7 linked regions of the Homo sapiens genome follow. The protein of the gene in region 3 purifies or fractionates together with the protein of the main gene of each other region. This does not show direct contact. Each region holds a gene or a part of one and is shown on either strand. Other genes may lie near its edges.

Region 1 (3,500 bases), on a different chromosome or scaffold from region 3:
AGAGCTCCAATGGGAAACATGTTTTCATATTATTACCCAAAGGGAACAATTTCAGGAAGGAGTGTTTTGTTGGCTTCTTTTTTGTAATAATTTTATGGATTTTTAAAAGGATGTAATCTTCTTAAAGCACTCTGTGAACATCCATTGCAGTCTGTTCCTCATGGCAGGGAATCCATAGACAAGGAATGCCGGTATGACCAGCCTGACGTGAAGGCCTGGCTGTTGTCAGCGTAACCTCTCTAGGTGCAAACATTAGCAGGGTTGTTGCATTATTCTTAATGCTTCTATCTCTGGAAAGAGTTCCACAGCAAGGCAAGTTTACACAGTTGGCCAAAATCAGGTCTCAGGACTTGGCGTAAACTTCATTTGTGGCACTTCCACGTCTCTTCTCCTGCCATAGCTATCTGAGAATTTCCCCTTAATAGCTTCTCTGACCCAGGATTCTGTATGATCCTGCATTAGCTCCACGGGACTATAAGCCAAAGGACAGCATGACTATAGGCAGGTCTCTGGGGTAAAAGTAAATTGTGGCCAGGCACAGTGGATCACGCCTGTAATCCCAACACTTTGGGAGGCTGAGACAGGAGGATCACTTGAGGTCAGGAGTTCGAGACCAGCCTGGCCAACATGGTGAAACTCCATCTCTACTAAAAATACAAAAAAATTAGCCTGACGTGGTGGCGCACACCTGTAGTCCCAGCTACTTGGGAGGAGGCTGAGGTGGAGAATCACTTGAACCTGGGAGGCCGAGGTTGCAGTGAGCTGAGATCGTGCCACTGCACTCCAGCCTGGGCAACAGAGTGAGACTCTATCTCAAAAAAAAAAATGTGAATTGTGTGTTCAGATCATTTTCTTGGGGCATAGAAAAATATTGAGAGCCAGAGAAGTTGGACAAGAGTATCTGAGACCCAGTCTATCTTCCTGGTGTGAAAATTTACCAGTTTCTGATAGAATCTGATCTTGTGTATCTTTTTTGTTTTCTGAGGTATAAAAACATATTCCAGAAAAGTCTTCTAAGACTTAATTCACAGGAATCCTGTAGAACAAGATATCTTTGTCAACATGAAGTCCTGTAGGGAAAACTTGGTGTAATATGGGAGCAAATAAGAATAAATGTGTTTTATCATTTTTCCAATAAGCAGGTGTTTGATTTCATTGCACTGCTGGTGCATAAATGAGAAATAATTTCAAAATCGCTTTGCCTTGCTTTTTTTTATGTGAAGATGAAAGGTTGAAATACCATAACATGAATCTTTTGTGAGCTTTGGTATTTATGTATAAAAGTGGGCACAAATTATACACTTGAACAAAAGAAATTCAGGGAGGAACATGGTGTATGATTTGTTCTACTTCAGTCTTTGAAACTTGTTTCATTTAAAATAAGCTGATTTAACCATTGATTGAACCCGAGCTTGCCAAGCACTCCCATCAATCACAGCCCTGTTCTGTACTTGTTCCCTCGCCTCCCTCCTCCCTCGTCACAATCCAGGCTCAGCGGTAGCGTGTACAGGAGGGAGAGCCAGAAAGCCTGGGTTCAGATTTCACCTTGGCCACTTTCTGTTTATCTGTGCAATGAGGATGGTTGTATTAGGTTGGTGCAGAAGTAATTGCTGTTTTTGCCATTACTTTTAATGACAAAAACTGCCGTGACTTCTGCACCAACTTAACAGTATCTACATCTGGGGTTGTTCTGAGGCTTACATGTGTTAATGGTTAGCACTGAGAGCAGCATCTGGCATCTTGTAAGTGCTCAGTAAAAGTTATCATCACCATCAGCAGCAGCATCATATTCTCCCTCTAAAATGTGTGTCCACAAAAACAACACTTTGATTCCCCATTTAATCTTTCATCCCAAGGGGCCATGGCAAGTTGCTGTAGGGATTAACAGTGGGAACACAAGGAATGATTAGGACTCCTTTCTAAAACTCCCACCCTTGCAAATAGTAGGAATAGCTCTCTGTGGAGTCTGTTTCCTGGCAGCCTCTTTAAGCTCAGCTGTTTTTAGCAGCTGAGAACTTGGAGAATTAAGAGTGTTCCAGAAGTGCTGTGACCTCAGCTTTGCTGCATCATTCCTTTGAGTGGGGTTAGGCTGGCGTGGCTGGTGAGGAGCTGTTGTCCCAAGGCTATGTAATTCTTGGTGTGGGGAAGAGTCATCATGTTTGGTTGATGGCAAATTATTGGGAATAAAGAAAACTCAGGTTTTCCAGCTAAGAAATACAGAATTTTGTGCAACTTGGAACCACAGTTATTTATTTCACAAACACTTTCAAAGCACTCTGTGCCAGGGGTGGTTCTGATTACTATGCATTAGGTTACTGTTATTATCCTCATTTTACAAATGAGGCAACAAAAGTAAAAAGGACACCCAGATGGGGACATGGCAGAGCCAGGCCTTGAACTCAAGGGGTTTGATTACCATCTGTATCAGTTCTCCAGGATAACTGGAGTTCTCCAGAAAAACAGAAAATCAGTTCTCCAGAAAAACAAAACCAATAGGATTGGTTTATGCAATTGGAGAGGCTGGCAAGTCCCATATCTGTAGGGAAGGCTGGCAGACCGGAAACTAGGCAGGAGCTCATGGTGCACTCTTTACTTAGAATTTCTTCTTTCTCAGGGAAAACTCAGTTTTTCTCTTAAGGCCTTTTAACTAATCATATGAGGCCCACCCACATTATCAAGGAAAAATCTCCTTTCCTTAAAGTCAACCACCCAGCCTGGGAAACATAGGGAAACTCCATCTCTACAAAAGTTAAAAAAAATTAGCCAGGTGGGGTGGCACATGCCTGTGGTCCCAGCTACTTGAGAGGGTGATGTCAGAGGATTGCTTGGGCCTTGGAGGTCAAGGCTGCAGTGAGCTGTGATTACACCACTGCACTTCAGCCTGAGCAACAGAGCAAGACTCTCTCAAAAATTAAAAAAAAAATAAAGTCAACTGATTATAGATGTTAACCACATCTACAAAATACCTTCACAGCAACATTTAGATGAATCTTTTATTGGATAATGGTACTATAGCCTAGCAAAGTTGACACAAAGAACTAACTAGGCCAGGCACAGTAGCTCACACCTGTAATCCCAGCATTTTGGGAGGTCGAGGCAGGAAGATCACTTGAGGTCAGGAGTTCGAGACCAGCCTGGTCAATATGGCGAAACCCTGTCTCTACTAAAAATACAAAAATTAGCCAGGCATGGTGGCATATACCTGTAGCCCCAGCTACTCAGGAGGCTGAAGCACAAGAATCACTTGAACTGGGAAGGTGGAGGTTGCAGTGAGCCAAGATCACACCATTGCACTGTAGCCTGGGTGACAGAGTAAGACTGTTTCAAAAAAACAAAAAACCACAACAACAAAAAAAGAAAGAAACCCTAACCATAAAAGGATCCATGCCTTTAAACAGTACCTCAAGCTGAGAACCTTATGAGTTGGGTGTGAGATTCACAGTTAACTAAATAATTTAGCAATAGGCTATCCCATTACAAAATGCTGCACCTTACCTTGT
Region 2 (2,377 bases), on a different chromosome or scaffold from region 3:
CCTCCCGGATTCACGCCATTCTCCTGCCTCAGCCTCCTGAGTAGCTGGGACTACAGGCGCCCGCCACCATGCCCGGCTAATTTTTTTGTATTTTTAGTAGAGACGGGGTTTCACCATGTTAGCCACGATGGTCTCAATCTCCTGACCTTGTGATCTGCCCACCTCGGCCTCCCAAAGTGCTGGGATTACAGACGTGAGCCACCGTGCCGGGCCAAGACTGATTTCTTGGAACCTATTCATTGGGCCAACATAACTCTTGCCACAATAACTACTGTGTATGGAAGACAGATTCATTGATGAATCAGATAGTGCACAGCACTGGGTCTTTCTTTAGTGAGTGGCTTCTCCTAAACTTGGTTTAACATTTAAGTAGGTATACTCTGAGGGTACTTGGTATTAGGCTGGAACTTTGTGACTACAGTAGAGAGAAACCATGGATTAGAGTTTGTGATGTGATTTCCATACTCCACAGTGAATACAATTTCATACAATGGACAAATACAATTGCAAACAAATACAAAAACAAAATAAAATTTCATACAACAAACTGAAGTTTTATCAGTACAGGAAGAGCTCTTCCTGTGTCCTGATTGGGATTTAAATCCTAATTTTCTTACTTCAGAGTTCTAGTAAAATATCTTTTATAAGTGACAATTCCCAGTCTGGGCAACATGGTGAAACCTTGTCTCTACTAAAAATACAAAAATTAGCTGGATATGGTGGCGTGCGCCTGTATCCTCAGCTTACTTGGGAGGCTGAGGAGAAGAATTGCTTGAACCCGGGAGGCGGAGGTTGCAGTGAGCCGAGACCACGCCACTGCACTCCAGCCTGGGTGACAGTGAGACTCCGTCTCAAAAAAAAAAAAAAAAAAAGAAAAGAAAAAGTGACAGTTCTAACTGAAATGCAAACATCAGGATCCTTGGGAATTAGGAAAATGGGGATAGCTAGAGATGGTGGTGAAAAGTTGGATTCTGGAGTCCCACAGCATGGGTTTTAATCTAGGTTTTAACCCACATAATAGCTGTGACCTTGGATAGAGTGCAAGGATAAACAAAACAGTTGGCCAAATATTTTCTTTTTTGGCCAAATATTGTCATTTGGACTACTTGTACAGGAGATTGATACTGAAGAACATTTTGGCTCAGAGTAGACCTGGTTAGCTTATCACTTTGAACTTCTGATTTCCAGATGCTGGCTATGAGTTTGACATCTGCTTCACCTCAGTGCAGAAGAGAGCGATCCGGACCCTCTGGACAGTGCTAGATGCCATTGATCAGATGTGGCTGCCAGTGGTGAGGACTTGGCGCCTCAATGAGCGGCACTATGGGGGTCTAACCGGTCTCAATAAAGCAGAAACTGCTGCAAAGCATGGTGAGGCCCAGGTGAAGATCTGGAGGCGCTCCTATGATGTCCCACCACCTCCGATGGAGCCCGACCATCCTTTCTACAGCAACATCAGTAAGGTATGGACAAACAGAGGTTTGGTCACTCCGCCCAGGATCAGGGGCTTTTAGTAGTGTCTGCCTAATCTCACTGAACTTACAATTCATGATAAAATAGTTAATTGTAATCCTTCCTTCTCCAGTGAATGACCTTCACTTACTAGAAGATATGGTTGATAGTTTACTATCTCCTTTTTTGTGTTTCCATAGTCAGATTTTATAAAACCCTGTGAATGTGAATGGGCCAAAATCGATACATCATGAAGTCTTTTAACAGATGTAACTCTTAATAAGTGGTGAACTTGGATTCTTTATTGCTTAGGATCGCAGGTATGCAGACCTCACAGAAGATCAGCTACCCTCCTGTGAGAGTCTGAAGGATACTATTGCCAGAGCTCTGCCCTTCTGGAATGAAGAAATAGTTCCCCAGATCAAGGAGGGGAAACGTGTACTGATTGCAGCCCATGGCAACAGCCTCCGGGGCATTGTCAAGCATCTGGAGGGTATGTATGTTTTTTCAGAGGCGCCCTCAAGGAAGGATAAAGCAGAACTGCCACAAATCAGGGACTTGGTAAAAAGGAGTCTAGGGAAGGGCTGGACATGTTAACAGCTTTAGAGATGGTCTAGATTGACTTCTAGTGAAAAAACACCCTCAACCCTTGTTTCTCAAAATGTGATCTGCAGAATAGTGACAGCTGGACCCCCTGGGAGCTTGTTATACATGCAGAACCTCAGGTCTCACTCCAGACCTGTTTCAGAATCGGCATCTATTCCCCAGGTGATTTGGATACACATTAAAGATTGAGAAGCTCACCTCTAGATTGGTATTGTCAAATGAAACTGCTAGTGAAAATCCTCCTTAGCTTGCCAAGCACAGTGGCTCATGCCTGTAATTGCAACATTTTGGGAGGCCAAGGCAGGAGGACCACTTGAGG
Region 3 (3,500 bases):
GACATTTACTTCAGGGATATGCCCAAGGATTTGCTTTTGTCCTTCTGGACACTTTGTTGTTGAGCAAAGGTGAATTCACTCTCATTTTGGGTAAATTGTTGTTTAACAGCTTCCTTAAACAGGTTTTTGTATCTTACGGATTCTGGAGGGAAGTCATATATTTTACTCTATCTGTCAGGTGTTCACTGTAAGGAAGGGGATTTTAGATATAGTGGTTATGTCTTTTAAAAAGTTTCCTAGGATTTCAATCCGTGTAGATGGAGCTACACTGTACTTCTCCTAAGCCTTGGCCATTTTATCTTAGGTAATATGGACTCTTCAGGGGGGGAAAAAAGGGGAAGGGGGGCTCTTGAATAAAATGGGTAGCCTTTTCACATATTGACATCTTCAGTATTAATTTAGAGAGAGCGATACTAACTTCTTCAATGAAAAATTATTTATGGAAGAGATCCAGTGTATACTTCTAATATTTCATCAGTATTACGTTAAATTGCTTGTAGATTAGAGGTGCTTCTTGTCATAGTGAATGGAGACTAATACCTTAAGTCATTCCTTTCTAGTATGATGATTGTGGTTGCTCTTACTGAGGACTATAAATGTGGATTTGGTTGATACTTTCACGTTTCTCCTTGGACATTGCAGATGGAAGTCATAACCCCAAATGTCTTACTTATCTGCAATTTTGCTCTGAGATATGGACCAGGCTCTAGCAGACCGTCTGCCACTGTGTAGTTAGTGTTGCCTGATTAGAAATAAACCAAGTCCTGCCTAAATTGGTCAATCTGTTTTGTTCCGCGTCCACGCAGGATCCACTTACAGAAAGCCAGTGGCTGCTTTTAACCACTATCGAAACCTCAGTCCTTTGTAAGTACTTTCCTTGGAGCAGAAGGTTTAAAAGCTCATGACTAAACACTCATTTTGGAACTCAAAATAATCTTAGAGAAGTTAGTGGGTTGCTCAGAGTCCCACGAGCTGCTTATGGGCTGCGTGGAAACCCAGGTTATTTCCCCATAAAGCCTCACTCCTGCTGCCCCTCTCTTCTGAGAGAGAAGCAGAGAATGTCTAATTGAGTCACTCTTACTCACTGTCTGCAACGTAAAACTTTTTTTTCTACCATTTTTTTTTGTACCCTAGAACCATTAAAAAAAAAACCAGTCTGGATCCTATATCCGTCTCATGATCTCCCCCAGAGGAGACCTCTTCGGCCTTTTAATACACCACACATGCCCCAGGGGGACGGTGCAGTCACTACCTGCTGCCACTTCATCCACAGGCCATCTTCCCCTCAACTTACTCCTTTCTGCTTCTTACATTATGTGCACGTGGTTTCCTTTATATGCCAAAAAGTATATGGCATGCACTGAAATAACTTTCTTCATAAAACTAAACTTTAGTTTTTCTAAAATTTAAGTTAAATCCTTGTTTTTCTCCCAAAATGCACAGTGGTTGGGGGCTGGGAAGCTGGCGATGGTGGGTATGTGTTTGAAAAGAACGCCAGCTGGCTTTAGACTTATTTGGGGGCTATAGAGCAAGCGGAGCAGTCAGGCATCCCACCCACCCCTGAAATGCTCGGGGCCCTCTTGGCAGATCCAGTGTGCACGTTGTCGTGGCAGGTGGTGGATGGAGAGCTTTTATGCCGATTTCTAGCGTTATCTGGCTTATTGGTTTGAGAGCTGCATACAACGGGATGTTTAATCTTTTTTATTTAAAATTACCATTTATAGTATTTGGGGTGATTTAGAGGATTTAAAAAATCTGTTAGATTCTGAAGTAGTCCTTAAAATATGGAACATAAGTGCTTAAGATGCTAAAACACTTTCTAAAGCATACTATTGGGATGTTTGAAACTGATGTTGGTAAATGTAAACTGTGTGCATTTGTGTTTGGATAATCTGTGATAAGTTTAGTTTTTGATGAGACACAATTTTAATTTCACATTTAAAATGACATATTGAGGTCAATAAGAGCAGGTTTGAATTTACATTTTCCAGAGAAACCCACAATTAATAGGTAACTTTTATTTTCATAATGCTTTTAATTATTACACTTACGTAGATTCAGAAATGGATATATTCCTAAAATAAACCAAAATTAAAACTTCTTTGTCTTTTTAAAGAAAAGCTGTGGTTCTATTAGAGAAAAATACTTCTTTTTTAAGTTTATGAAGAAATAGCTGTTAGATAAAAACTTTTCCTGGTTGAGCTTTCTAAATTACAAATTTCCTGAATTGCATGGCAAAGTGACTTTGAAAAGACCCACTTCATTTTTCCTTTGACAGTCTATTCAAAACACCATTACCACGTAGACTAATACAATAACCAAGGTAAATAGTAACAAGATCTAATGGGGGAAATAGTGTATCAAAAGGGGGAAAACAGTATCCACTGACAGAGAGAACTAGCTGTTTCTTAAAGAGACAGAGAAGAAAGGTTTCCTCGGAGTTATTGGGTCTTCATAGGATGGTCTCCTGTCCTTCTCTGAGCTTGCCTTGGAAACTGTAGAGGCTGTAGGAATATTTGCTGTCTTTAACCCTTACTAATGTTCTCAGCTATTTCATTAGAGGATCACAGTGTCTGTATTTGCCTTAGGTGTAAGATGATTGGAGAAAAGGAAAATGTAGAGAAATCAGATTGACTTTAGATGGACAGGCAGAGAGTTCTGGAGTGACTTCCCACTCCTTAATTCTGCAATGCACCCAGAAGGCAGGGTGAGGTTAGATGATCACCTGGGTATTTACTATAGCCATTATTACTGTGATTAGATAAAGTGTCCTGGAATCTTCTCTGAATAACTCATTTTTCTTTTTTTTTTTTTTCTTTTTTTCGTTTTGCTCTGTCGCCCAGGCTGGAGTGCAGTGGCGCAATCTCAGCTCACTGCAACCTCAGCCTCCTGGGTTCAAGCGATTCTCCTGCCTCAGCCTCCCGAGTAGCTGGGATTACTGGCACCCGCCACCATGCCCAGCTAATTTTTTCGTATTTTTAGTAGAGACAAGGTTTCACCATGTTGGTCAGGCTGGTCTTGAACTCCTGACTTCGTGATCCACCTGTCTTGGCCTCCCAAAGTGCTAGGATTACAGGTGTGAGCCACCGCACCCGTCCTTTTTTCTTTTTAGACAGTCTCACTCTGTCGCCCAGGCTGGAGTGCAGTGGCGCAATTTCTGCTCACCACAACCTCTGCCTCCTGGGTTCAAGCAATTCTCGTGCCTCAGCCTCCCTAGTAGCTGGGACTACAGGTGTACGCCACCAAGCTTGACTAATTTTTATATATATATATATATACAATATTTTTTTTGACAGAGTCTCGCCGTGTCGCCCAGGCTGGAGTGCAGTGGCACGATCTCGGCTCACTGCAACCTCCGCCTCCCAGGTTCAAGCAATTCTTTTGCCCCAGCCTCCAAAGTAGCTGGGCCTACAGGTGCCGCCACTATGCCCGGCTAATTTTTTTGTATTTTTTAGTAGAGATGGGGTTTCACTATATTGGCCAGGCTGGTCACAAACTCC
Region 4 (3,500 bases), on a different chromosome or scaffold from region 3:
TGGCTCACTGCAACCTCTGCCTCCTGGATTCAAGTGATTCTCCTGCTTCAGCCCCCTAAATAGCTGGGATTTCAGGCGCCTGCCACCATGCCCAGCTAATTTTTGTATTTTTAGTAGAGATGAGGGTTTCACCATGTTGGCCAGGTTGGTCCCGAACTCCTGACCTCAGGTGATCAACCCTTCTGGGCCTCCCAAAGTGCTGGGTTTACAGGTGTGAGTAACTGCGCCCAGCTGATTGAAAGATTTCTATGCTGTATGCACCTGCTCTACTGAGAAGGTCATGGAAAAGACAAGAGTTCAAAGGCTGATAGAATTCTGGAACTTCAGGGAGGGATAGATTAAGATCCTGCATGGTTTAGGCCTTTGGACACAAAACTATAAGCAGTAATTGTTAATATCACTCTAGCAGTTGAGTAGAGGACTGACTCAAGGTGTCAGAGATAAACACAATCGGACATTAAAGTGGTGAAAACAGATTTTATTCAGCCTACTGACAGTAGGGGAAAGAGCTAAACTCCAGTCTGATTTGTGGAGGGGTAACTGGGCCTTTTAAAAGAATGAGGGGGCTGGGCCTGGTGGCTCACGCTTGTAATCCCAGCACTTTGGGAGGCCGAGGCGGGCAGATCACGAGGTCAGGAGATGGAGACCATCCTGGCTAACATGGTGAAACCCCGTCTCTACTAAAAATACAAACAAAAATTAGCTGGGTGTGGTGGCGGGCGCCTGTACTCCCAGCTACTTTGGGAGGCTGAGGCGGGAGAATGGCGTGAACCCGGGAGGCAGAGCTTGCAATGAGCCGAGATCATGCCACTGCACTCCAGCCTAGGTGACACAGCAAGACTCCATCTGAAAAAAAAAAAAAAAAAAAAAAAAAAAAAAGGAGTAGAGAGGGATTTAAGCAGAGTTAGAGAAGTGAAAAATTACATAAAGTAGGAAGTGGGGTTGGTCCATATGAAACCCATCTGAGTTTGCCAACTGGCGCTTATCAAAATCAGGCTCCCACAGAGACAGAGACAGGGGTCCTATCTTCATCTTGAGGCGTTGGCTGGAACAAACAGTAAATTTTTTTTGGCAGCCTTAAGTTTTCTTAGGCGGACACTTTAAGGAGGGATCAGGTCCTCCTAGGAATAAGGCCTTGAGCTATTTGAAACTTGTGTTTGTTCAAATCTTTATAGTCCAAGGTTGAAGGCTTGTGAAGAAGAGGTCTCAGAGGACCCTAGCTAGGGTTTGGTCAGGGAGAGAATCTTTTGCCCAAGAGGTAGACTATTTGCAAGGAGATCAGACTTTTTTTTTTTTTTTTTTAGATGGAGCCTTGCTCTGTCGCCCAGTGGTGCCATCTTGGCTCACTGCAACCTCCGCCTCCTGGATTCAAGTGATTCTCCTGACTCTACCTCCCGAGTAGCTGGGATTACAGGCACACGCCACCACATCCACCTAATTTTTGTATTTTTAATAGAGATGGGGTTTTACCATGTTGGCCAGGCTGATCTCAAACTCTTGACCTCAAGTGATCCACCCACCTTGGCCTCCCAAAGTGCTGAGATTACAGGTGTGAGCCACCGCACCCAGCACAGATATTTTTACTTACAAGTTTTGGAAAAGGATAAAACCTTCAGCTAGGGAAATGAAAGTGAATAAAAATTTGCATAACTTGACCAATTAGAAATAGATCAGGAATAGGCCAGGCGCGGTGGCTCACACTTGTAATCCCAACACTTTGGGAGGCCGAGGCGGGCGGATCACGAGGTCTGGAGTTCGAGACCATCCTGGCCAACATGGTGAAACCGTGTCTCTACTAAAAATCCAAAAAATGAGCTGGGCGTGGTGGCAGGCGCCTGTAGTCCCAGCTACTCGGGAGACTGAGGCAGGAGAATCACTTGAACCCAGGAGGCAGAGGTTGTTGCAGTGAGCCGAGATCACACCGCTGCACTCCAGCCTGGCGACAGAGTGAGACTCCATCTCAGAAAAAAAAAGAAATAGGTCAGGAATAAAGAAAACACTTTTCTCTTGCTTTTCAAACTCAGGAACTAATAGATATGAATTATTGGATATCCAAGCACACCTTTGTTATTTATTTTATGAAATTTAGAAACCAAATATAGATTTGGATAATGCAGATCCCTCTGAATTTGGTCTGAATTCAGAAACCAAATAGATTTAGGTAAGGATACTTTTAAATTCGGTACACTTCTTCTTTTTTTTAATTAACTCCCTAAGATTCTTGACAGTTCCTCTGTCTGCTTTCCTCTCATATATGAATTGCTATTGATTAGATTAATATGTAACCTTTTTTGTAGAAGACCCTGATAATCCTACTTTGTTCTAGGAAATATGCCTGTTATAGCAATTTCTTTAGGTAATTTCATCCATTGTGTGAATTTATTTTCCAAATCGGGGACAGAGGCAATATCACTGTATTCATTCTAATTGGTTATTATAAAAACACCTAGTAATATCAATTATTGCTGCTAAAACAGTTCAAATCTTTGTGGGGGGGAAGTCACCATCCCTTATTTTAATGCCTTATGATTTCATAGGAATTAAATAGTAATGATTTTTTTTAACTTTAGGAAATAACTGAAATCATGTTATGGTTTGGTGAATTATTAACAGAATCTTATTAGAAGAATTTAGGCTTCCAAAGAAGCTGGAAGTTATTTGAAATTAAATTATAGATGTGTAAGTTACTAATAGTCACATCACAGCCTTGAAATTAGATACTGAGGGTTTTGTTTGTTTATTTATTACCAAATCCATCAAACTCTTTAAACTGACTTTGGTCATTGTTGGCTATTGTTTGTCATTCTTTTAAAGGACACAAATTAATAACTCTGTGTGTGTGTGTTGTTTTTTGTTTTTAGGGTCCACCAAAATATACTAAATCTGTTCTGAAAAAGGGAGATAAAACCAACTTTCCCAAAAAGGGAGATGTTGTTCACTGCTGGTATACAGGAACACTACAAGATGGGACTGTTTTTGATACTAATATTCAAACAAGTAAGTCTAAATGGAATCTTATGTTTTTGGCTTAAAGAGATTCTAAATACTTGGGTGGCAGACAGATGAGTAGTTAGCAGTACCTTTTTCCTGACTGTCACCTACTTTCATCCAGACATACTTTCCCCCAAGATCTACTTGGAAGAGGTCTTCAGTTCACTGATTATTGGCTGGCTAAAGACCTCTTGTTCTTTGGAAAGCAAAAGATAAGGAATCTCAGTCTAAACCTGGTTAATGTCCCAAAGTAAGGCATTAGTATTTGAATAGAAAAGGCAGGATAGTATGCTGTTTTGTGATATAAGTATAGGTCCTACCCCTCTACCCTTTGTTAAGAATGTAATTATTTTTACAGCCAGAATTTTATTGATGGATGATCTTTGTAAATTTTTTCCTTCTTTTAAAATACATAGTATTGTAATTCTGAAATCAAACCACTATATTTTTCCACTGGAATTTAATAATTTCCAATGGAAATTTCTTAATAATAAATTAGAGTATATCAT
Region 5 (2,176 bases), on a different chromosome or scaffold from region 3:
GTGAGCCACCATGCCCGGCCAATGACCATTTTTCATAAAGACGTTTTTTGCTTTGTTTTGACCCCATCAGGAGTCCCTTTGTAATGGTAGCATGCAGACAACACAGCTGCAGCAAGAGGAAGACTTTATTTTGGCCAGTAGATTTGTCTCTCATTTGCTTTAGCAAGGAATAGCTGGTATGTGATTCAAAGTCATTCCTTAGAAAATCACAACCTGCCAGGGGCTTCTGGAGTGGCCAGCAAAGAATCAAGACAGCAACAGGAAAATCCGAAAACGTCAGAGGTCTGTATTTGATGACTTCTTGAATATTATCGGTGTGCACAACTACATGGCCCAGATGTAGTACGAGCACCACCGTGTCTCCTCTTGAAGTAATAATCCAACAAATGCCTTAATGCTAAGTGATTAATTAAATCTTTTCACTGGACTTGATAAAACCTGACAAATTCTTGTGCCACTAATTCTTAATAGTTACACACTGTTTTGCTCTAGGAGGGGACTTGATAGGAAGAACTGGGAAAAGGTTAAAAATAAATCTTGAAATGCCACTAGCTAATTTCCCAACCTCCCATAAAATGAGAAAGGGAAGGCCAAATGGACATCTGGCAAGAAACAGTTCTAACACAAAAGCCCCAGCTGAGGCCCCATTTGAGGCCTGAGTGTTGAAAAAGATAATGAAGAAGCTTGAGTAAGAAATGCATTTAACTAAAATTAATTTCAGTCATGAGACTCAGATTGGATTAAAATTTAAAATCAAATTATAGCCTTCGCTTTAACAGAAAATTACAGGATGACTCTGACATTCATGAACAAAACATGACAAATGTAACTTACCTTTAAACCCTTCTTCTGGCATACAAACTGAAAAAAAGAAAAAAAGAAGAATTCCAAATTGAAAAGATTGTCGTGACAGACAGTAATATCATTTCAATGCTTAAAGACAAAAGTTTAAAATAACTTTTGATTACCTTTGTCACCTGTAATAATCATCTTTGAAGTTACGGATGTTACTAATTTCAGAACAATCTTTGTTTCTGTTTTTATCAAAGCAATACGTATGCATCATTTAAAAAGTCAAATACTGACAGGACAAGGTTTGTAACTAGGGCACACCTAGTGCACGACTCTAGGAGTGGCCTGGGAGGAAGCCATGTAACTGACTCCTCTGGAGCTGTCTCTCTCCCCTTCCTCCTCCCATTCCCAAGTTCTGGAAGGAGTCACTTTTGACTCACACAGCAGCTTCTTCTGGTATTTAGCCTATTTCTAAATAACATGCTTTTCATAATTTTATTTACTTTTTTTTTTTGAGAGGGTGTCCAGCTCTGTCACCCAGAATGGAGTGCAGTGGCATGATCTCGGCTCACTGCAACCTCTGCTTCCTGGGTTCAAGCAATTCTCCTGCCTCAGCTTCCCAAGTAGCTGGGATTACAGGCACCCACCACCACACTTGGCTAATTTTTGTATTTGTAGTAGAGACAGGGTTTCACCACGTTGGCCAGGCTCGTCTCGAACTCTTGACCTCAAGTGATCCGCCCGCCACAGCCTCCCAAAGTGATGGGATTACAGGAGTGGGCCATCGTGCCTGGCCTACTTCATAATTTTAGATAAAAATCTAATAAATTCTTCAGTGAAGGATACAAACAGCTGTTTTACCACTTACATAGCACCTGCCCCGACCCATCCTCCTGATGAAGTGGTGTTTGTTGTTGTTAAGCCAGTCTCCAGCGCTGGCATTACTTTTTACGCCATTAATACTAGTCACAGTTGAATGCCTTGGTGCACCTTGGTTATATTTACTACATGGTATGACTTGGTCTTTCTGGGCTTGGTAACTACTGAATTACTGATGTGTTTCATTTTCTCTGTATTTATCTCCAATTCACGTGTAAATTCTTAAAGACCTGTAACCTCTTGAAGACAGTCATCATCCCTTCCACTTTTCCTTGTGGCATCCCTTCCTGAAGCTCGCATCCCACCACTCCAATATGGATCAGGTGTCTTCGCTGCCTGCTGAAGAACAGTAGTTCTGAGACTTCCCTTCACCATCTTCTAGGGCATCTTATCCTAGGCTGATCTGCTATTTACTGGGTCCACTGTTGATTCTTTCTTGATTTAATGTTTAAGAAGAAGAACACATCCTCACACAGTATCATGGCAGACGGTGCATGACAGATCA
Region 6 (3,500 bases), on a different chromosome or scaffold from region 3:
AGCTCCTGGCCAGTTACAATGATGAAGACATTTACCTCTTCAACTCCTCTCACAGTGATGGGGCCCAGTATGTTAAGAGATACAAGGGCCACAGAAATAATGCCACAGGTGAGACTGTCTTCCTAGGTTTCTTTGGCCCAAGCCTGTTGGCTTTGGAGAACCACAGTGTCTTACTCAGGTTATACAAATAGAAACTACCTGCCTGTGTTGCCATGGGCACTGAGGGATTATCCTGAATTGGGCTGGAGTTTTCATGTTTTCTCCGCTATGCTAGAGGAGAAAGCGCTCAAGAGCATCTCTTGCCACTCCAATAATGTTGCTTCTAATTGGTTTGGACATAAGGAGGCTAGACTAACTGTTTTTAAGATTTCAGGCAACTTCAAAAGAAGCACAAATGCCTTGTTAGGGAGTCAGGGAAAGCCCTCTTTAGTCAGTGGTCCTGAATTGCTTAAAATAGGGAGTGACCTTATACCTCTAGGAAGGAGGAGTAAACAATTCTTTTAGATGAGGCAGAAGAGGAGGAATGGTGGTAGTAACTAGCCCAAGATTGGCCTGTTTTGTTCCATGTCTGTGGTTCCCAAACTTTGGGGCACATTGAAATCATCTGATGTGTTTTGTTTTGTGTTTATGAGACAGGATCTCACTCTGTTGTCCAGGCTGGAGTGCAATGGTGCAATTATGGCTCACTGCAGCCTTGACCTCCCAGGCACTGCAGCCTCAACCTCCCGGGCTCAGGTGATCTTCCCACTTCAGCCTCGTGAGTAGCTGGGACTACAGGTGCATGCCTCTACACCTGGCTAATTTTTGTATTTTTTGTGGAGATGGGGTTTCACCATGTTGCCCAAGCTGGTCTCTAACTCCTGGGCTCAAGTGATCCGCCTGCCTCGACTTCCCAAAGTGCTGGGCATGAGCCACCAATCCCAATCCTGGTGTTCTTTTAAAAATAACAGTTTGGCCTTAACCCCATATATTCTGATTTAATAGGGATGGACTGCAACTTGAGCACTGAGATTTTTAAAAACTACCCACATGATTCTAATGTCCAGGAAAGTTGAGGAATCATTTCTCTATTGTTACCACTCCTAGCAGATACCTGTCATGATTTTGTCTTGGAGATAGCAGTTAGAGGTTAGTTTTATTTTTTTTCCTGAGCTGGTAAGAAGGGAGGGAAAAATCTGTTCTTGGATCTCAGTACACAGGCAGATAAAGGAAGGGTGCCAGTCTCATGGCCAATATTGTACTGACCATAGTCATTGGAACTCTTGGCTTCTTTTACTGATTCCGGAGAGTGGAGCCCTGTTAATGGTAGCAAGCACAGATCACTTGCTTCTCGAGGCAGTTGTGGCATATACCTTCATCAGTCTCAGATCAGCTGATGACCCAGAAATATTGACAAGGTACCAATGAAGTCCACATATCAAAGATAATCCTAGGCCATAAGACAGTGCTGCCTAAGAGTAGGCAGAGCTGGGATGATTCAGGGTGGGACAGGTAAGAGATTAGAGAGGCCTGTGGTTACTTGATAGGGTATAAACTTGAGAGACTAAGGCTGCTGCTAAAGGACTGCAGATTCCTCTGCCCTAAGGAGCGAGCTCTTTGGGAGAATATAAATCATCTCTTGGGACTGGTGTGATTCCTATAACTATCTGTTAAACATGCATAATCTAGCTGATTTAGAGTTTGTGAATAACTAAATTCCCTTTGAGATGAATGTATATAGGCCTGATGCCAACCCTCATGTGGTTTCTTCCCTCATTTATCATTTCAGTAAAAGGCGTCAATTTCTATGGCCCCAAGAGTGAGTTTGTGGTGAGCGGTAGTGACTGTGGGCACATCTTCCTCTGGGAGAAATCATCCTGCCAGATTATTCAGTTCATGGAGGGGGACAAGGGAGGCGTGGTGAGTATGGTGTGCTGAGCTGGCTGGCTCCCTAATCTCTCCAGTCATTAAGGTAGGTTTTAGCAGGGACACTGAATTCTCACTGTGACTACATGATACCATGTTTTAGAGGTCCAGCCAGCCATAAAAGACTAGTTAGCCTGGAGGTGCTGAGTTTTTGATGGAGTATTTTCTTCCTGTTCCTATCTTCTGTCCCTGTAAAGCACAGTTTATTGAGACAAGAAAGGGATCTTAGGGAAGAACCTCTGTCCTGTCCTGAGTGATGTAACTTATCTCTAGACGTGCACCTTTTCCAAATGAAAAAGCGTTAGTGTTCAGGGCGTACCCTCCTACACAAGGCTAAAGATTTCTCCATGTCTCTTCCCTTTAAACTAAACTAAGTAGTGATCTTGGCTGGATCTTAGATTAGCAGATAAAAGCTATAAAGAGCATTTTTTGGACAGTTGGGAAAATTAGAATATGGTTTATACATTAGATAACATGGTATTCAATATTAAATTGATTTGATTACTTAGAATATTCTTGTACTTAAGAGATACATGTTGAAGTATTTAGGGGTGAAATGTCATGCGTACATTCAAATAGATAACAAACACATATACATGTGTACATATAAGGAGAACGCAAATGTGGCAATTGTTTTTTAGTAGCTGAGCAGTCTGCTTGCTGTATAACCCATGATCGTATCATAGTCTGCCTGGCCTTTGAGTTCTGCAGCCCTCTGTGGAGTTAGGGCAAAAAGGAAGAGTGAGAATCGAGTTAGGGAATGAAGAGCAATCAGCTCTTAAGATGTATCTGGTTAACCTTATCTTTTTTTTTTTTTTTTTTTTTTTGAGACCTAGAATTAGGAAGGAGTTCAATCGCTTTCTGTTACAAGGTTTTTGGACCACAGGAGATGGGAAAAACACAGTTTGGAAGACTAAATTATACTGATTGCCCAGAATAGTCTGGTTATCCAAGGCCTCTAAGGAATGACTGAGACAGCTAAGTCTCTCTTCCTTTTTATTCCTTCTTAGCTGTGGGGAACTTCAAAGAGCCTAGCCATCTCTTGATGAGGTTTTTTCAGAGAGTGGTTTTAGAATTTAGAATGGTTCTTTGCAATCAGGATCCCATTCCTTATGTTTTTCTTGCCCTGGTGAAAGGGTATTTCAAATTTTCTTCTGGTTTCCTCTAAATTTCAGGGACCTGGGACCTGCATAGATCTAGGGTTTTTATGGTTTGAATACAAATGGAGAGGAGTCTAGAAGTTCAAGGTGTGTCTCACTCTTCCCTGCTTCATTTCCAACTCTTCCATAGGTCCCCCTGTGTCATCTGCAGTGAACAAACCCAAAACACTTGAGTCTTAATGGGAATTATGCAATAGGCATTTAGAGAAAGGAAGTCAGAAGGGGCCAGTGAATTTTTTCTTGACATAAGCTATTGCCTTGCATTCTGTTCCAGAGAGATGCAGGGCTGAATGCCCTCTCCCAGGCCAGCATTTGTCCATTCTCCAAAAGCATTCTGCAGGCCAGTTTGCTTTTAGCTCAGCCAATGCCAGGGTTTGATGATTAACCCATTTGCCCAGGTGAGGAAGGCATCTACTTGGGATGGGTGGGCCCCAG
Region 7 (3,500 bases), on a different chromosome or scaffold from region 3:
GCTGACACCTATAATCCCAGCACTTTGGGAGGTCCAGGCAGGCAGATCACCTGAGGTCAGGAGTTCAAGACCAGCCTGGCCAACATGGCGAAACCATGTCTCTATTAAAAATACAAAAATTAGTCAAGAGTGGTGGACTGCATACCTGTAATCCCAGCCACTCGGGAGGCTAACAGAAGAATCACTTGAACCCAGGAGGTGGAGGGTGCACTGAACTGAGATTGTGTCACTGCACTCCAGCCTGGGTAACAGAGCAACATGTCGTCTCAAAAAAAAAAATCTTTTTTTTAAACTACTTTTTTTTTTGAGACAGGGTCTGGCTCTGTCGCCCAACCTGGAGTGCAGTGGTGTGATCTGGCAGTCTCTGCCTCCTGGGCTCAAGCGATCCTTCCACCTCGACCTCCCAAAGTGCTGAGATTACAGGCGTGAGCCACTGCTCCTAGACCTAAACTACTTTATAATCAGTTTCCAAATAAATTTCCCTTTATCTGCTGTATAACATTACTAATATTAATAACTGATTTTTTTTAATAGAGTTTCGCTCTTGTTGCCCAGGCTGGAGTGCAATGGCGCAATCTTGGCTCACTGCAACCTCACCTCCCAGGTTCGAGTGATTCTCCTGCCTCAGACTCCCGAGTAGCTGGGATTATAGGTGCCCGCCACCATGACCGGCTAATTTTTCTAATTTTAGTAGAGACGGGGTTTCACCATGTTGGTCAGGCTGGTCTCGAACTCCTGACCTCAGGTGATCTGCCTTCCTCGGCCCCCCAAAGTGCTGGGATACAGGTATGAGCCATCACAACCAGCCTTAAAATGTAAATTTTAAAAAAGGCAAAGAACATCTGGTCCTCTAAAGGGTAAAATCTCATGTTTCCATGTTTGTTCATCTACCATGTTTATCGCACCTATACTTTAGGAGCATTGACTATAAAAATTCCATTCGTGATACTTTACAGAGTGCTATTCTTAAGACTGATGGACAAGTTAGGTTTTCTTTTTTTAAGGTGCTATTTTAAGAAAAGATCTTAAAACAGGTTGAGTGGCTAGCTCAAAAGCTAGGACTCTTACAAAAAAGAAAAACAGAGGGAAGAGCTAGGGAGCAGAACTGGAATGAGAACGTTTATTCAGTGACTGAACACAGACTGTGAAAAGTTCTTTTGTCCATTCACCAAATATTTACTGAGCACCTACTAGGTGCCAGGCACCAAGAGCTGTGAAGGAGACAGAATGGAAACAACATGAGACTTGGTCCCAGCCCTCATCGCCTGTAATCTCATGGGGAATAGAGACAAGCTAAGCGGCACTTAAGGAGGACAAGGTCTGCAGAAATACCATAAGTCATGGCAGCAGATCCGCACTGACCTATGTCAGACTCAGGAACACCAAGGCAGGACCCGAAGGAGCAGGAGTTCTCCAGGGGAACAGCTGGAGACTGTTCCACACAGAGGAGGCAAAAAGAACACAGAACTAAAGGTCAGCTAGGCTGCAGCAGGAGAAAGAACAGCAGGAGATGAAGCCAGTAATGTATGTCCACCTGCACCACAGGGCCTTGGGAACCAAGTTGAGGAGTTTAGACTTTTTATCCTACAAGCCACGAGGAGCCATTGGATGATTTTAAGCAGAAGGGCACACACAGATATCAAATTTGTGTTTTAGAAAGAACACTGGGTCTATAGCGGGAGAATGAATTGGAAAGGGTTGAAGGTTGAGACGGAGAGGCTGATGAGGAGGCTGAGGCAGCAACAGCAATCCAGGCAAGAGGTGATGGTGGCTTGACCCATGGTCTTGGCTATGGGCAGAGAATAGAAAAGGCAAGAGTGAGGGCCATTTGGGAGCAGAATGCAGAGGATTTGCTAATGAACTACATTTAGGGATTGAGGGAGGAGGAGCTGTCAATAACACAACTTCCTTTTCTTTTGTGGACAAGAGGGCAGACAACGCTTCCTCTCCCTGCACTGGAGACCCTGGGGAAGAGGAGTCTGGGGCAGGGGCACGAGTCTTCCATCTCTGAGTCACAGTGGGGTGGAAAGTCAGAAATGAAAATGTGAGATCTGGGCTGGAGACCTGGATGGAAGTCAGGCCACTGGGAGGGATGACACCTCCTTTGAGAGTGCAGAAGGAGAAGAGGGCCCAGGCTGAGCCCAAGGAACACAGACATCCCTAGGCAGGGAAGCGCAGAAAGGAGGCAGTGTCAGCAGCAGGAGCCACAGTGATCGCGGGAAGGGAAAACCCAGAAGCCAGCAGAATCACAGATGCCAAGGAAGGGTCTGTTGGGAGAACAAGGAGGGCCTACAATGCAAAGTGCTGCTGAGATGAGGCCAAGAGATGGCAGGTGGGGATGCCAGTGATGGCAGAAGCTGCCTAGACCTAGGGACTGAGAAGGTGACAGGAGTCAATAATGAACCTCTTTTCTAGCATAGCCACTGGGGTGGGCAATGCCTCCCACTGCCAGCTGTGACTTGGCAGGGGTAAGCCACCCAAGTGGGAGCAAGGAAGAAGGGGCAAGTGTAGCCGATTCTTCCAAGGAGGAATTGGAGGGAGGAAGGGAAAATAGAAAGTGAAGGAACTCTGCAAAGTGACTAACACCGGTAACCAGGTTAAGAAAGGCTTACCTCTGTTCACACGCACGTCGATGACAGCACACACATGCTCACGTCGATGACAGCACACACATGCTTACATATCTCCTGCCTGGTCCTTAACAGACTCTCACCCAAGGTTTTTGAAACAGACAAATGAAGAGGGTGGAATTATCTTTCAAGTACCCATACTCGGCTTCCCTACTGGACCACAACCGTGCAGGTAAAGACCCTGTCTTGTACTCCATCTTCCACAGTGCAGTCCTGGATGAGTGTACACGGAGGGAGGCAAATCCTACTGGATGCCCCTTATGTCATCCAACTCCATAGTGAGTCTACACAAATTACTAAGACACTATACTTGCGATACATGAATTGTGAGGGGGTTAGGGATTAATAAAAACGTGCTATTCAGAGACGTTAGGCTGCAATATGAACAGGTGAAGATGATGGAAAACATCAAGATATTATGCTGGTGCAAAAGTAATTGCAGTTTTTCCCATTACTTTTATTGGCAAAAACCGCATTACTTTTTACCAACCGAAATACAAATATTCTAACAGTTTTGGTCTCTGATGATGAGACAGGAGGGAATAGATGTTATCAAGAACACTGTGGCATATATTTAAAGCTACTCTAAGAAAATGCAAAAGCAGGAAATGAACATTTTTCATTGCCTGTTAACCTAGCTAGTGTCCACATTTTAGCAGCAATAAAACAGGCTTAATTAAAGGACTTTAATAAAGTTTGGATAATTAAAAATAACCTAATATCTTATTGTGCCTAATTAGATGGGTTTACAGGTCATTTCCAACTTGGATTTTTTTTTTAAATTATACTCAACAGATGCTAAAGAACAGATCTCTAAACTGTCTTGACAAGCCAGTTTTCTACATTACAATTTGATTAGAGTTATCTGAG

What was found.
Region 1: the proteins of BASP1 (region 3) and DPYSL5 fractionate together in Homo sapiens (co-fractionation; one large-scale study listed by BioGRID). This does not show direct contact.
Region 2: the proteins of BASP1 (region 3) and PGAM1 purify together in Homo sapiens (affinity purification with mass spectrometry, with the first as the bait; one large-scale study listed by BioGRID). This does not show direct contact.
Region 4: the proteins of BASP1 (region 3) and FKBP3 purify together in Homo sapiens (affinity purification with mass spectrometry, with the first as the bait; one large-scale study listed by BioGRID). This does not show direct contact.
Region 5: the proteins of BASP1 (region 3) and USP48 fractionate together in Homo sapiens (co-fractionation; one large-scale study listed by BioGRID). This does not show direct contact.
Region 6: the proteins of BASP1 (region 3) and DCAF8 fractionate together in Homo sapiens (co-fractionation; one large-scale study listed by BioGRID). This does not show direct contact.
Region 7: the proteins of BASP1 (region 3) and UPF2 fractionate together in Homo sapiens (co-fractionation; one large-scale study listed by BioGRID). This does not show direct contact.

What each region holds. Positions count from the first base shown.
Region 1 is NC_000002.12:26,851,132-26,854,631, forward strand, and holds part of DPYSL5 (dihydropyrimidinase-related protein 5), read left to right. Parts: intron 1-3,500. UniProt on the Homo sapiens protein: Involved in the negative regulation of dendrite outgrowth.
Region 2 is NC_000010.11:97,429,191-97,431,567, forward strand, and holds part of PGAM1 (phosphoglycerate mutase 1), read left to right. Parts: intron 1-1,188; coding exon 1,189-1,463; intron 1,464-1,764; coding exon 1,765-1,945; intron 1,946-2,377. UniProt on the Homo sapiens protein: Catalyzes the interconversion of 2-phosphoglycerate and 3-phosphoglyceratea crucial step in glycolysis, by using 2,3-bisphosphoglycerate. Also catalyzes the interconversion of (2R)-2,3-bisphosphoglycerate and (2R)-3-phospho-glyceroyl phosphate.
Region 3 is NC_000005.10:17,224,131-17,227,630, forward strand, and holds part of BASP1 (brain acid soluble protein 1), read left to right. Parts: intron 1-3,500.
Region 4 is NC_000014.9:45,120,982-45,124,481, reverse strand, and holds part of FKBP3 (peptidyl-prolyl cis-trans isomerase FKBP3), read left to right. Parts: intron 1-2,861; coding exon 2,862-2,997; intron 2,998-3,500. UniProt on the Homo sapiens protein: FK506- and rapamycin-binding proteins (FKBPs) constitute a family of receptors for the two immunosuppressants which inhibit T-cell proliferation by arresting two distinct cytoplasmic signal transmission pathways. PPIases accelerate the folding of proteins.
Region 5 is NC_000001.11:21,679,974-21,682,149, forward strand, and holds part of USP48 (ubiquitin carboxyl-terminal hydrolase 48), read right to left. Parts: intron 862-2,176; coding exon 835-861; intron 1-834.
Region 6 is NC_000001.11:160,221,050-160,224,549, reverse strand, and holds part of DCAF8 (DDB1- and CUL4-associated factor 8), read left to right. Parts: coding exon 1-108; intron 109-1,768; coding exon 1,769-1,899; intron 1,900-3,500. UniProt on the Homo sapiens protein: May function as a substrate receptor for CUL4-DDB1 E3 ubiquitin-protein ligase complex.
Region 7 is NC_000010.11:11,924,310-11,927,809, forward strand, and holds part of UPF2 (regulator of nonsense transcripts 2), read right to left. Parts: intron 1-3,500. UniProt on the Homo sapiens protein: Involved in nonsense-mediated decay (NMD) of mRNAs containing premature stop codons by associating with the nuclear exon junction complex (EJC).